2 linked regions of the Homo sapiens genome follow. The protein of the gene in region 2 interacts with the protein of the main gene of each other region in a pairwise test. Each region holds a gene or a part of one and is shown on either strand. Other genes may lie near its edges.

Region 1 (5,931 bases), on a different chromosome or scaffold from region 2:
CTCATCCTGTGGGCGCTGGCGGACCACGGGGGTTTTCCGGGTTTTCCAGGGGCCAGTCGAACCAGATCTTGTGCAGGGAGCCGAGGAGGGAGTGGTGGGGAAATCGGGCCACAGCCCCTGACGACACCTGCCGCGGAGTCTGGGGGCTGAGGGGGCGGGGGTGCCCACGGAGCCTAGTATGGTGCCTGGCGTATGACCGGCGCTCAATATTTGTTAAATGATTTGTTACATTAATGAACCAGAGAAATCGCGGTGGGAATGGAAAAAAGATTAAGTTGGGAGATACTAGTAGGTTCAGTGACGAGTTGGCCACTGTTTGGACGGAGAAGTAGGAAATTCCGATCTAGGGTGACTCCCAGGTTTCAGATCGGTTTGGACACGCTGAATTTGAGGTGCCGGAGAGGTCGCAAAGGCGGGGCGGCCAATGGGCCGTTGGAAAAAGGGTCTGGAGCCAGAGCACTCCCTGAGACCACAAGGGGGCAGCAAACATTTGGTGGACTACGGTGCCAATCTGTTTCTCAACATGCTTGCCCCAGCGCCCCTACTTCCCAACTTCCCCTCCCCAGGACCAAAACTTCCTGCATCCAAACCTCTTAGGCTGCCCTTCTCGGCTCGTGGCAGCAGGTAGGCTCCCAAGAGAGAAATTTAAAGGCCTTTGCACATGCTGCTCCCTTGGCTCTGAAAGTCCCTGGATATCACTTACCAGGTCCCTTCAGTCCCTTTTTTCTTCTGTGTCCACCTGATAGGACTGCCCTTTTCCTTTACTGTCTATCCTGCTAGCCCGTGCAGGGCAGGGATTAGCCCTATCTACTCCCATCATCTGACATTTGGAGGTCTCTTATTGGTAAATGTGGGATAAATGGATACATAAAGGAATATCCTATTCACATAATCAAATGAGAGCCTTCATTTTGAGAGCTCTACACCTGCCAGAAAGCCAGACCAGGATGAGTTTAGTTCCCAGTCAAACGATTAGGCAGGCTGACACCTCTGCCCCCTACCACCTCCATCCTAGACCAAGAAGCCAGCACACTCCTCCAGTCATCTCTATGGTTTATTGTCACTGAAATAAGAACACTGATTGGGGGGAGGGTGGGTGTTGCAAATTGCAAACCTCAGGTAACCTGACCTCCAACTTTAGAGCCCAGAGTACAGAGAGGTGGGCCTTGAAGCCAATAAATACAAAGCTTCCTCTGCCTTGTAACAAAGGCAGGTTGGCATAGGGCCCTGGAGCCTGACTGCCCAGGCCCACTTTGGGATGGGGAGCAGCTATCACTCCTCTGCTGGCTTCACTTGCGTGGCGGCCTCTAGCTGGCAAAGTAGCTCATCCCACTGCACGAATTGCTTGGAGAGAAGCATTGTCTGGTTGTAGGTCAAGGTGAGAATAGGAATCTGAGTGAGGAAGTTCATGGAAAGTGGGGAACAGGCAAACATAGGTGGGTAGGATAGGATGAGAGAGAGCTAGAGGTGGAACAAAAGGACAGGGCTTAGGGACAGCACCCATTAGGGTCCTAGTTGAGCAGAAAGGATACAGTCTTGTTGTATTCCTCCAGGAGAGCCTTGGACTCCTCAGTGATTTCCACACACTGGTCCTGTAGGGCCAAAGTGTAGCACAGAAAGGAACTGGGCAAAGCCCACATCTTCCACTAAACTTCCTGCCTCATCACGGACTCCCACTCCCCATGGAGCCTAAAAAAGATGACGCTTAACCCCAAAGCCAAAGGAGCAAATGGCTATGGGAGCACTTTCAGGCTCCAGGATGGGTGCCCTAACAGCAGTCCAAAGACGGATGGAAAAGGGAGTGGCCATACATTAAGTAAACATTCCCCCTAGTGTATGTCTCTTCTTCTGTCCTTATTTCTGAACTCTCTTTGAACTTTACACTAGGGCCTGGGAATAGTGAAAAAAGAGCCCCTCTACCCACAGTCAATGACATACCATCCCCAGGAATTCTTGGGTACCTCCCAGCCTCAACCTTATGGTGTCCCAATAAAGTCCTGCTCTGGAAGCAGAAAGTTTGTACATGAACCTAGGCAAGTCCCTTTACCTCCCTGGGGCATATGCAAGATAAAGGATAAACCCCAAAGTTTCTGCTGAGGTTACAACAGAAAGGCCTGAAGCTGCTTCCCCAGGTGGCATGAGTTGGGATGAGGTGCTGCGCCACCTCCATCTTCGCTTCTAGTCATCTCCCCTCCCATACCTGCTGCTGAATGTGGATCTGGGCCAAGCGCTGCAGGCGGGCAGCATGCTCAGGAACGGCTGTAAAACACAACACACACTGCTGGATGATGCTTGTGCCCTCCCCCGGGACTGCTCAATAGTCTATTAGGTCTTTGGCAGGATTAGAGTATTGAGTGGAGAAGCTAAACAAACGCCAGACTTCATCGACTGCTGCAGCTGGAGGTGGCAGTGGGGCTCCCTGCCCACTCCAGTCTTACTCCAGGACCCATAGGGGAGGGGAAGATACATGTCCCGAGGAGAAGACAAAACCTTGGGGTTCCCAGTGTTGCTCCCTACCCCCACCCCAGTGCTATAAGCAGGACCAGGTAAAGAGAGCTTTGGCTATTATAGGACCTGTCCCTTTGCTCTCAGCCCAGCGGGGGCAGGTCTGCCTGGCTTAGGGAACAGGGAGTCTGAAGATGGATGCCAGGTCCCTAAGCTGGAATCCAACACGCCAAGGCTTGGCCACCATGCTGGGCTCAAAGCTTAAGGCTGTCAGATACTCAGCGGGCAGCTGATCAGGGGTAGGGAGGGGGAGCTGGGAAAAATACCTCCACAGACAGACAAGATGGATATCTGGATTCAATTAAAGCCACTATCTGCTTGTCAAAGTCCAGGCCCAGGGACTGCTCTCAGCAGTGCAGCAGAAAGAATTCACATACATTCATGGACCTGGCAGAGACTCTGATAGTAAAATCTGGGTTCTGCAGCACCTTGAAGAAGAGATGCTTGGGGGTAGGTAGAAGGCAGAAGGAATCCCCAGAGCTGGGGACTGCTAGAGCTTAGGCTAGTGTTCTCAGGCCCAAATTGCCTGAGGTCCTAAAACTGGGCTCTCTATCCTGGTAATTTTAATTGGTGGATGTGGCAAGTACCTCAGGGTGAGGATAAAGATAAGGAACAGGCCAGGCACAGTAGCTCACGCCTGTAATCCCAGCACTCTGAGAGGCCGAGGCAGGTGGATCACATGGGGCCAGGAGTTTGAGACCAGCCTGGACAACATGGTGAAACCCCGTCTCTACTAAAAATAGCCAGGTGTGGTGGCACACACCTGTAATCCTAGCTACTTGGGAGGCAAGGTGGGAAGTTTGTTTGAACCAGGAGGCAGCGGTTGCAGTGAGTCAAGATCATGCCACTGCACTCCAGCCTGGGTGACAGAGTACGACTCTGTCCAAAAAAAAAAAAAAAAGATAAGGAACAGACCCAACCCGAATCCACACAACCTGAAACACAGGAAAGTCTTGCCCATCCATCCACCTACCTCCCCAACCAGAGTAGTGAAGCTATAACCCCAGAGAGATACCTTTGATGTGAGCACTGTCCAGCATGGGCACCAAGGCATTCACCTGCTCCAGGAGTGCAACCTGGGAAAGGATAAACTGCTCCTCTAAAGCAAAAATGGACAAGATAGTTGCAGTGAAGCAAACCTGGGCATTGCTAATCAGCCCATGTAAGGGCCTGAGGACCTGGCAAGGGAGATGGCTAGGTCCTAGAGCTTTGGACAGTGACTCTGTCCACTGCCCCCTTCTCTAGGTGCACATTTCCATCCTGCCCCCAACTCTCCTGGATGCCTCAGGTCTGACCCATCTGAGCCTAATGAGCCTCTCAATTTCTCCAAATCCCACCTTTCTCCAAGGTTTAACTTCAAGACCTCTTCTTCTAGCCTCCTATCAACAAACTCAGGGAGCACCTCCTAGGCCACAAAATACAAAATACTTCAGACTTGGATCCCCACACCCAAGGGTCCCCAGGAAGGTCTAAAAGAGATATGTGGCAGACTACGCCAGGCAGGTTCTGCTCAGTGGCTCTCAGAGGCATAGACAATTATATGCTGGAGGAGAGCTGGGACAGTAATGGAAGAGTCCAGTGAGGAGAGCAGGATCTGGGCTAGGCCCTGTATGCACACGGGATTTCAATGCACTGAAATCCATAGAGTGGGAAGGGTATTCAAGAGAGAGGACTGTTACGTGCAAATGCTTAGAGGCAGGAATGCCTGTCAATTAGTAGAGGAGAAAGAATTCAATTAGCTGAACTGGAGTAGGGAGAGCACAGGAAACAGAGTTGGATGGGAGGGTAGACCCGGCCGACTGAAAGGCTTTGAATGGCAGACTATGGAATTAGGACTTTATCCTAGCAAGGCAGGATACACTGAGGTTCCAAAGTAGGCAAAGTGACATGTTGGGAACATGTTTTTGTGAGGGTGAGACTGAACCACATGCAGGAAGGGAAAGATTAGGGTCAAGAGTATGATTTAGGAGACTGTGCAACCATTCATATGCAAGTGGATGCACAATTCCTGAGGCAGTGCCACAGGGAGGGATGGAGAGGCTGGACTCAAGAGTCAGTGCAGGAGAATATCTAAACTTGGTGCTTGAGCGATGGCAATTGACCAAGAGCCCTTTGGGAACTCTGACAGCCCTTTTAGCAGGAGTGGCCCATCCTTACCCAGTCCTCAGTGCTGCATTGCACTGATCAGTCTCCTGGGAGACTGATCTCCCATCTGGGTTATAAGCTCAGGTCCCTGAAGCAGGGACCCTGTCTCCCCTAGCTCTGGCTGTGCCCATGAGGGCAGGGACTTTCTGGTTCACCACTGTATGCTTCCTCACTTAGGAAAGAACCTGGATCAGAGTAGATGATCATTATACATCTTTTGGATGAATAACGAAGCTCAAAAAACCCTAGCTTATAGAATGGCTGACTGATTAGCAGACATTGCCAAGGCAATAGTTCCTGCCTAGAACTCTGACACTGCAGAGCTTTCTCACATGAAAGAAAGATGTTGAAACTCATGCCAATACTCTCTCTGTTCTTTAATGGCAATGCTCTCTGCCCCTACCCTTTCCTAGAAGCTCCTCTGTCTAGTGAGCAGAAGTGAGGAAGGTTCTGAAGGAAAATCCAAGAGGCAAACTATTGATAGAACACTGGACTAGCTCCCACTGTGGCTGGCACCATGGCCTGCAGCTGGTGCAGAGGTATACTGTACTCAATGTCTACTAGAGGATCCATAGGATCCTCAACCCAGAACCAGGCCACAATTCCAGAGAGCAGCATCCAGGGCTTGTATCCACCAGAAGACTGGATGGAGAGGCCATCTCTGTGCTTAACCTCCCCGACGACCCACATCCTCAGATGCATGTACACATGTAGTCCAGCATTACCTGCTAGGATGAATTGCAGCTTAGAGGCATCAGGTATGGCAATGCGGTCGATGTACTCAGGATCCAGGTACTTGATCAGATCTTCAACTAGAAAAGTAGCAAGATGGAAAATGGAATAGGGTTGGGCAGTAGAGCTCTGCCTTATGAAGGATGTTTGACAAGTGGTCAGCCTTGAGGAGAGCCTTCAATGAGGAGCTGATACCCAACAGTGCCACATGAGCAGGGCTCCACCAGGCTCCCTATCCCCACTTCCCTATCTCTCCACTCTCTTCTCTTGAAGTCTCTTCTGACATCAAGCTTCAGAGCTGAAAACACAATTGCCACCACCACTCTGGGCCCTTAGCATTCTCACTGACCTATCCTCACCAAGGGTAGAAGGCCTCTTTTCTCCTAGATGTCACCGAGACAAGCCAGAGCTTTGTCTAATTTCTAGTTACTAAGCAGGTTACTAGTTCTGACATAACCAGGATCTCAGTGTCTAATTTGTTTCCTGCCCCTTAACCTTGCCTGGGAAATCCCATACCCTTTTTACCCTCCTTCACCAAGAGAAGCTTTC
Region 2 (9,092 bases):
CTGATGAGAAAGCCCTTATGTGGACTTCAAAGTTTCAGGGAAGAGTGAAGGCAGTCAATTTCCCCAAAGCCTGGCAAAAGTCACAGACAAAATTAAAGCCTATGAGCAAAAGGCTCCTCAAGAATACTCCAGATTAAGCTAACATTGTCAACCACCACAGAGGGCAAAGACAAAATCTATATTGTCTACCTTTGTATTCCTCGAGCCCAGCACATAGTAGGCACTCATTTAGAGAATGAACACACATCTCCATATGTCCACAAGCTCAAAATGTATAAGTGAAAACCTATGAATTTCTCAAAATAATAATCTATAGATAAGAAAGTTAAACACACACACACACACAAACCCTTGACAGGAGATTTTGCTTCAAGTTTAGGTATTTATCATAGAATATATTCACTTACAACATAACTTTTTATATAACTGACATTTCTCAAGTTCTATTTAATAGAATGGAAATTCACTATGTTTAAAGAACACTTAACCAAATCTACACTTATCTACTTTAGGATTAATACTGGCTCTAAAAAGTAAACTAGTACTATGGTTGGTTTGATTAACTGGTTAGGTAATCATGAGAGCTGATGGTCATAATTATGGGATTGAATCCTTTTAAGAAGAAATATCAATCCTCAAAGGAATCAATCCCATAATGACTTTTTCCCTCCATAACTTAACAATGCAATCCTACACTCCAGCCAGCTAGAGAGCTACCAGACAGTGCTCGTGCGAGCCACTATTCACATGGGTCCAGCCACGGGATATGGAGGATTTGGCATAAATCTATCATCAACCCTTTACTTATGGCAAGTCAATTCTGTCATCTCCAAATGTGAAGAACAATTTTTTAAACTGCCAATAGTGAAAACCAGAGAATGCTTCCCTAGTATAGGTAGCTTGAATGCAATCTAAATATGTATTAATTTTTTTGTGTGTATTATAATGTACTACTGGACTATATGGAACTCTCAGAAAGACACATGCTATTGAATAGTAAGCATTACTAAGAAATTTATGAATGATTAAAATAAAAAAATCAATATCGATTAAGACTATTTTTCCATGTCAAGCTTCAAACCTGACAAAAGGGATGGCAGGATTAAGATAACTATTAACCTCCGAAAGACACAGGACCAAATAAAACACTGTAGAATGACCACAAAAAATGTTTCTCTAATTAGAAGTGTAACTAAACCAAGAAATAAAACAATCTGCTTTCCATGTCACCAATTATTTTCATCTGTTCAACTTCCCAGTTGCTCCTTAATGTGCAATCCACATCTCAAAACATCTTTTTCCTGCTCTTGCTGTTCTGTTCACCTTGGAAAGGTACAATTCTAGCATGTATCATCTTCAAAATTTGGTTTAGAGGGCTTGTATTCTGTTTACAGTCAACATACATACAAACAAGCCTATTGATCTTCAACATACCTTCAGTCAATAAAAGCATACTTCATCCTGAATGTGGGTACTTTGTAATCACTATGTATGAGGAAAATGAGAATGCACCACCTATCAGTATCATATATGAAAAATTCAAAGAATGGATGGATGATCTCTGACTTTAAAACAATAAATGGTACAGTCATGATTTCAGAATCTAATGTTATTCTTAAATGTAATTCACTAGTGAAACACCATGTTCTAAAGGGCATTTATAGCATTACAGCAAATAACATTAAGTAGATTCACAATATTCAATATCTAATTGATGTATAATTATTGCTAAGACTACCCTGCCTTTTTTATCAGGTATGTTTATAATCGTGTCCATCACAATTTTAGATTGTATTGGAACAGCTACTCATAGAAATTTCTTCAGTGCTCACACAAATGGAAGACTTATAAAAACGCACATAAATGTTCTGCATTGGAACAGTAAGAAGCTATAACTTGAATGCGTTCAGACCTGTAGCAGGCTGTTGCTGCTGTGTAAGTGTTGCAGCCATGGCAACGGCTGCTGCGTTTGGCATGGTGCTGAAAGGAGTGGGTCCAGTAGTAACTCTGGGTGTGTTCTGCCACTTCTTGGCTTCTGCTCGCCTTGTTTCAAACACATCAACAGCATCTCCCAAGAACATTTTCCTGTAGCCAAGGTACTGTTCTTTCAGAACCTAAAAGAATAATAAACAAAACGGCTAAATGAAGTTTCACATTGACTATGGTTAATATGTGGATGAATATAACCATAAATTACCAAAGACAGTCCCAATATTATACATTCAATCCAAACTGCAAATTAGAGTGCTAATAATGCACTTTGGTGTAGGAAATGATGAGTTCAAGAGTTCTACTGCTCCCTTGAATAGTTTACTCCCTATCTTTACAATATGCTTCCTAAAATACTGTCTTTGTGAGGCCTTGTTTAAAATAAATCAGCTAAGCTTTTAGACAGAGTAATATTTAAATACTCCATCAATGTGCAGATGGATGGATGAAAAGAATTTAAAAATAAATATTCCAGTTTTTCAAGAAACTTTCCCCTCAAATGTCCAACCTTTTCATAGCCTTTTGATTAAAACAGTTTAAAAAAAAAAGAAAGAAAAAAAAGTCAGCACTAAATATACATACTTTTAAATACATTTTTTAGAAGGCCTGGGTAACACATGCTAAAATAAGGTGTTGCACCTCAGCAGTGGTTGGAGGGTATGATGAGGGCTTCTACTTTATTGCTATTATTTGACCATTGTACAATGAGACTTGATTCATGTTAAAGTTATGAACCCAACCACCCGCCTCAAAGAAAAAAAGTGTTTGTAACTCCAGAGTAAGAAAAATTCCCAAGTTCATAAAGTGAGCTGCTTTTACCCAATGCAGCATCTGCTTTGATTAAGGCCATCAACAGCAACAATTCTGTTTCACTTTAGAATTATTTTATGCTTTCATTGAAGATTTAGCCTAATTTAGATAGGTTTTTAACCACTTTTTGAAGAGACACAGATTTTTCATATTTCTTACATTTCTTAGCAGAAATTAGTAAACATTAGGTTCTGATTATAACAAATACAGCACTTAAAAATCTTACTGTTGTTTATAGTATTTAAAAGCTATCATCGCCCTTTTTGTGTGGATGTCAGTGTTTGATGTTCCAATTCCAAACTTTGCTACATTTATGATGTATTAAAAAAGGGGGCCTGCCAAGAACTGGATACTGGGGAAGATACAAAGCCAGAATCAAGACATATGATGTAAGAAAAACAAGCACTACCGATCTCTTGCAAATCCACCCTTCCTTGTCCTGGGCAAGCATCAGTATCCCATAAATTTTAGTTCTACTTCAGATAATGGAAAATAATGATCCACCTTAGAAACTTAAGACCAAGACCATTAGTTAAAAGAAACAGCCTGGCCGCGGTGGCTCCCACCTATAATCCCAGCCCTTAGGGAGGTCTAGGCAGGAGGACTCCTTGAGGCCAGGAGTTAAGATCAGCCTGGACAACACAGCAAGTGCCCCTCTCTACAAAAAGTTAAAAAATTAGCTAGGTGTGGTGGTGCATGCCTGTAGTCCTAGCTACTCAAGAGGCTGAGCCTGAGGCGGGAGGATCGCTTGGGCCCAGGAGATTGAGGCTGCAATGAGTCATGATTACGCCACTGCACTCTAGCATAGGCAACAGAGCAAGCCCTTCTCAACAAAACAAAACAAAATAATAAAACAAACAAACAAAAACCTTGACATCAGCCATGATTTATAAAACAAATTGCTAAAACTTCCAAATGTGTTAATGTTCCTGAGGCCTGGCTGGATAGAATAGTTAACGCCTGTTTCAACAGATTACCTAATGAAAAACAAAACGAACAAAAAAATGTCTTGTGAGATTTCTACAAGAAATAAAGAAACCTAGAGCTTAGTTTGCTCACTAAACTAAGCTAAAAATAATGGCAACATACCAAATCTGATTATAAAATATTCTTTGGTTCTTGGGAATATCCTTTCGTTCCTGGGTTGCTTAAAGAGTAGGTCAAAATTTCATGTCTACAACGTTTATTTGACGTGATCTAGGGCAGTTTTATGTGGTCTTGGTCTCACTGTTTTATGGTCATATTACCAAAAATGATATATTTTCCAAACCAGAGAGGAGACAGTGCTGCTAAAAAAAATGTACGTTTACACCTGGCATTTGCTCTGAAATACTTCGTGGGGGGAAAAAAAGCATCTTCTGTGGAGCATTGATAAAACAAGTTCAGCAGGGTTTTGATAATGGTTGCAATTAGGTAGTCATACCTGGGCATTCAGTATAATGATAGCCTACTTTTGTGTATATTTGAAAGATTTCATAATAAAAATTAAGGAAAAGAATTCTGTGCAACGGACTTCAAAGTGCCATACATTAATTTTATTAAAAAATTAAAGTAACATTTATTATAGACTAATAGAATTTTTTTAAATCTGATAAAATTCCTCCTTTAGAACAAAATTTAAAGATTTGGGTTACAGTTTTAAATCTACTAAAGCAAAAGGTCTAAAGTGCACTACCATTTCAAAAATGGTGTAATTTAAATGGTTTACTTAAAAAAATCCTGTTACTATGCATGAAATCAAAATAAAAATGAAAATGTTGATAATTCCAATTAAACTCTATTCTACACAGTTGATAATTTATCTAGACTCAGGTTTCGCTGCTTGAATTTTAAAGGTATTTTGGACCACATACACTCCAAGATTAAAGAGTTTAATTACATTTGCTCAGTTAGTTAGAAAAGATGTACTTACCTTGAACATTTCACTTAAATACATTTTTAAAACTAACGTTATTATGAGAGTCAAAATATTCAGGCTGGGTGCAGTGGCTCATGCCCATAAATCCTAGCACTTTGGGAGGCCGAGGAGGGAGGATTGCCTGAATTTAGTAGTTCGAGACCAGCCTGTGCAACATGGCAAAACCCTGTCTCTACTAAAAATACAAAAAATTAGCCAGGCATGGTGGCACGTGCCTGTAGTCCCAGCTATTCAGGAGGCTGAGGCATGAGAATCACTTGAACCCAGGAGGTGGAGGTTGCAGTGAACCAAGATCATGCCACTGAACTCCAGCCTGGGCGACAGAGCAAGAGTCTGTCTCAAAAAAAAAAAAAAAAAAGCGAGAGTCAGTCTAAATATTCAGTGATAAATCATTTTATTTACACTATTTAATAAACACAAACAGTTCCCTGTATTTAAAAGGGAGAAATGCTGTAAGCCGGTTTTTAATGCAGTGGCCAATAAACACTTAAAACAGATAAAATTAAGGTAGTACAAAATCATTTGCTACTAAGAATGCTTATTTTCTTTTTTTTTGAGATGGAATCTTGCTCTGTTGCCCAGGCTGGAGTGCAGTGGTGTGATCTCGGCTCACTGCAACCTCCACCTCCTGGGTTCAAGCGATTCTCCTGCCTCAGCCTCCCAGGTAGCTGGGACTACAAGTGCCCGCCACCATACCCGGCTAATTTTTGTAATTTTAGTAGAGACGGGGTTTCACCATATTGGCCAGGCTGGTCTTGAACTCCTGACTTTGTGATTCGCCCGCCTCGGCCTCCCAAAGTGCTGGGATTACAGGTGTAAGCCACTGTGCCTGACTAAGAATGCCTATTTTCTATAGTGCTATTTATAGTAGTAAAGAAATAGAAACCACCTAAATATCCAACAGAAAATGGGTTAAACAATGTACAACCATACAACAAACTCCTATGTTAACTATTAAAAATGATATTCAGGAAATATGTGTATTAACATAGAAAGTTATTCACAATGCACTGCTTAAAAAAAAGTTATAATAACAGACTACAGCGTACTTGGATCTTTTTTAAAAGAACAGGTATTATCAATCGTTATGTCTGGGTATGTTATGGATTATAGTAGTTTTCATCTTTTCACTTATATGTAATTTTAGCTATTTCTGTATCAAGCATGGACACATTTGTCCCCAGATGAACAAATACTTGGGTCTACATATCCAGGTAGATAAATGGGTAATGAAAACTTACCTTTACATTTTCATGAATAGACTGAAGTTGTGCCGCTAAAGCTACAAATGTTTGATAAATTTTCTGCATAGCCATTGACAAATCTATAAAAGAAAATTACATTATCACCCAAATATATACATATATATAGCACAATCCATTTTATTTTTCTATTTGAGTCCAATTTTTGGCACAGTTAACGTGTAGGAGAAAAAAACTCTATCAACGTTCTCATGGCCAGAGAACACACAGAGTAGCAGACTGAATGTCTACAAAAGAAATCTGGGGGGAAGGCCCTAAGATTTCTGTCCTTGTTACCACAGTAACAATTCATATAATAAAGCATATTATATTTATAGGGAATAAAGGAGTAGTAAATGACTTTTAAGGAAATTTTCTTAAAGGGGCTACCAGTAGTTATCCAAAATACCTATTATATAACCACATCTATCTCCTACAAACAAAAGTTCAAAAAAAATTACCACAGTAAGCATGTTACCTTGAGGGGTTATATGTGAATTATTTGCTTGAGTGGCAAGATGGTTTTCTAGTTCTTCAATCTGCTGCCTGTACTGCTGAAGCTGTACCTCAAATTGCTGAACCAAGATTCTGAAGTAGCTTTAAAAAACATTTAAAAAGTCAGATCAAATATTTTTTTAATTTGGAGTGACAAATCCAAATTAAGGAATATTCTGCAATCATTTAATAGTCTTCAAAAGTATCAAGGTTATCCAAGGAAAGGAAGGACTGAATAACTGTGACTGGAAGATATTAAGGAGAAATTACAAATGCACTGTGAATCCCAAATAGGATGCTGAAACAGAAGTACACTAGTGGAAAAACTGGTTGAATTTCAGTAAGTTTAGTAGTTTAGTTAATAATATTGTAACAATTTTAGTTTCCTGTTCTTGGTAATTATACTATAGTTATAAGTTAACATTAGGGGAAGCAAGGGAAGCGATATAAATAAATTCTCTGTACTACTATTTTGGAAGTTTTCTGTAAGGTTAAAATAAATTTAAAATAAAGTAGAAACGTCTACCAACCAGATTTCAGAATTAAGAATTTATAGTCATTTTATCAATGAAATTTATAATCTGAGAACACCATAGTATACTACAGAAAGCACATGTAATTATTGCTACTTTTCTAATAAATTTACCCACAGAGAGTGCTAGACAGATAAAAAAAAAAAAAGAAGGTATCTTGAATAGTATACAGAGGAATCTGAATGTCTTTCAGTAAACAATGGGCAACCATGAATGCATTTTGCAAAATTAGCTCTGATGGCAGTATTAAGTACAAGACAGAGGGATAAAATAGTAGAGGAAGTCCAGTGAGGAAGCACATCTCATGCCAACCTGAGTAAGACGAATATCATGGGCATTATGAATTTCCTGATTTTGAGAACTGTTAAGTATGAGAATATCCTTATTTTTAAGAAATATCCACTGAAGTACTTTAGCATAGTGAACATTATTTCTGCAAATAACCCAAACTGTTTGGGGGAGAAATGTATATACACACATAGAATGTGAGGAACAAAAATATGGTAAAAATGTTAATATGTAGGAAATTGGAATGAAAGGCATACAGGAATTTTTAGTTCTCATCTTGAAACTTTTCTGTAGACCAAAATTATAATAAAAAACTAAAAGAATAAAATAAGTAAGGGGCCAGGCGTGGTGGCTCACATCTGTAATCCCAGCACTTTAGGAGTCTGAGGCGGGAGAATCACTTTAGCCTAGGACCAGCCTAGGCAACACTGTGAAATGGCATCTCTACAAGTTAATTAATTAATTGTGAGGGACCAGGAATCAAACAGACCTCCACCACTCAACTCACTTTTGCATACCTCAGTCTCTTTATCGCTAAAACTGGAATAACAACAGCTACAGAGATCTTGTGAAATATGAAGGTAAAGCATGTATAGTCCTAAGCACACTGCATGGGAAATAGTAAGCATTTGGTAAACATCAGTTATTATTATCTTCATCAACATGGAAGGACATAAACAGGCAAGATATATTTTACATGTATGAAAGCCAAATGTATATATACAAGCTGAGTGATGTGATTACAGGTTGGTTTTTTCTTCTACTTATGTATATTTTCTAATTTTTCTTCCAGAACACGTATTACCTATTTAAATGAATAATGGTAATTTTCCATTACCAGTAAAATTTAATAAAATGGAGTAGACTCTGTAAGTAATATGTACATGAAGTATAAATGCGTAATAGTGGTGAAAAGCTCAGATCTTAGCCTTCACTTACCCTGCAGTCAAATGGTGTTAATGGAGATAAACCTTTTTAGGGTTATTATGAAATTTAAAATCCATGTAAAGTGCTTATTGGCTCAGCCTTTCCACATAGTATACTAAAAATATTTAGTTTGTATACTATTATTACTGTTCTGCTTTCTGAAAGTGAGAAACATTTGTTTTTAAAAATCCAGCAACTTACTCAGCAGGAGCTGCATATTCATGTTGAAGTCCAGGTGGTGTCTTCTGGGTTCTTAAAGCTATTTCAGCATTCTTCAACTCCTAATATACCAGAGGATTTAAAAAAAAAAAAAAAAGCCAGTTAAGAGTTATGTTAAAAATACCGTACGAAAAAAAATATTCAGTCTCTGGACTGAAACTTCAAACAATACCTTGGAGGTTCATGCTATAAGAACATATTATGGATGAAGCTGCTTCACAAGTTGCTAAAACCTTTCAAGAGCAGACAAATTACAGTTTTAACAAACTTATAAAGAGCTGTAGATCTATTTTTAAAACTATAGATTTCTGTAGGATTCACGAAGTGAATTCATTTACAGCGTAAAGATTATACTACTACTTAAAATCATTAATATAAACGCAGAAAATACTTTTTTTTTTTAAAAGGCAGGTGGCAATAATAATGTTGAGGCTGAGGCAGGCACAATTAACATTTGGGTGCTTGCTATGTACCAAACACTATGCTAAAAGTTACTTCTCAAGGACAACATTACAATGTAGGGAATGTTTCTCTTTTTATAGATGAAGAAATGGATTTACAAAGCCATTAAGTAACTTGCCCAATATCATGCTGCTAGAAGACCGAAGAACTGGATCTTTTAAAGCTTACACACTCAACCATTCTTATATTGCTTTCTACAATTCCAGCCAA

What was found. The genes of interacting proteins can lie anywhere in the genome.
Region 1: the proteins of NUP58 (region 2) and DCTN3 interact in binary tests that used the Homo sapiens proteins (3 or more experiments, as listed by UniProt).

What each region holds. Positions count from the first base shown.
Region 1 is NC_000009.12:34,612,510-34,618,440, forward strand, and holds the end of DCTN3 (dynactin subunit 3), read right to left. Parts: intron 5,463-5,931; coding exon 5,376-5,462; intron 3,605-5,375; coding exon 3,521-3,604; intron 2,260-3,520; coding exon 2,201-2,259; intron 1,690-2,200; coding exon of another isoform or gene 1,593-1,689; coding exon 1,533-1,592; intron 1,393-1,532; coding exon of another isoform or gene 1,363-1,392; coding exon 1,273-1,362; 3' UTR 1,037-1,272; downstream 1-1,036. UniProt on the Homo sapiens protein: Part of the dynactin complex that activates the molecular motor dynein for ultra-processive transport along microtubules. Together with dynein may be involved in spindle assembly and cytokinesis.
Region 2 is NC_000013.11:25,324,379-25,333,470, reverse strand, and holds part of NUP58 (nucleoporin p58/p45), read right to left. Parts: intron 8,483-9,092; coding exon 8,403-8,482; intron 6,556-8,402; coding exon 6,437-6,555; intron 6,042-6,436; coding exon 5,959-6,041; intron 2,115-5,958; coding exon 1,913-2,114; intron 1-1,912. UniProt on the Homo sapiens protein: Component of the nuclear pore complex, a complex required for the trafficking across the nuclear membrane.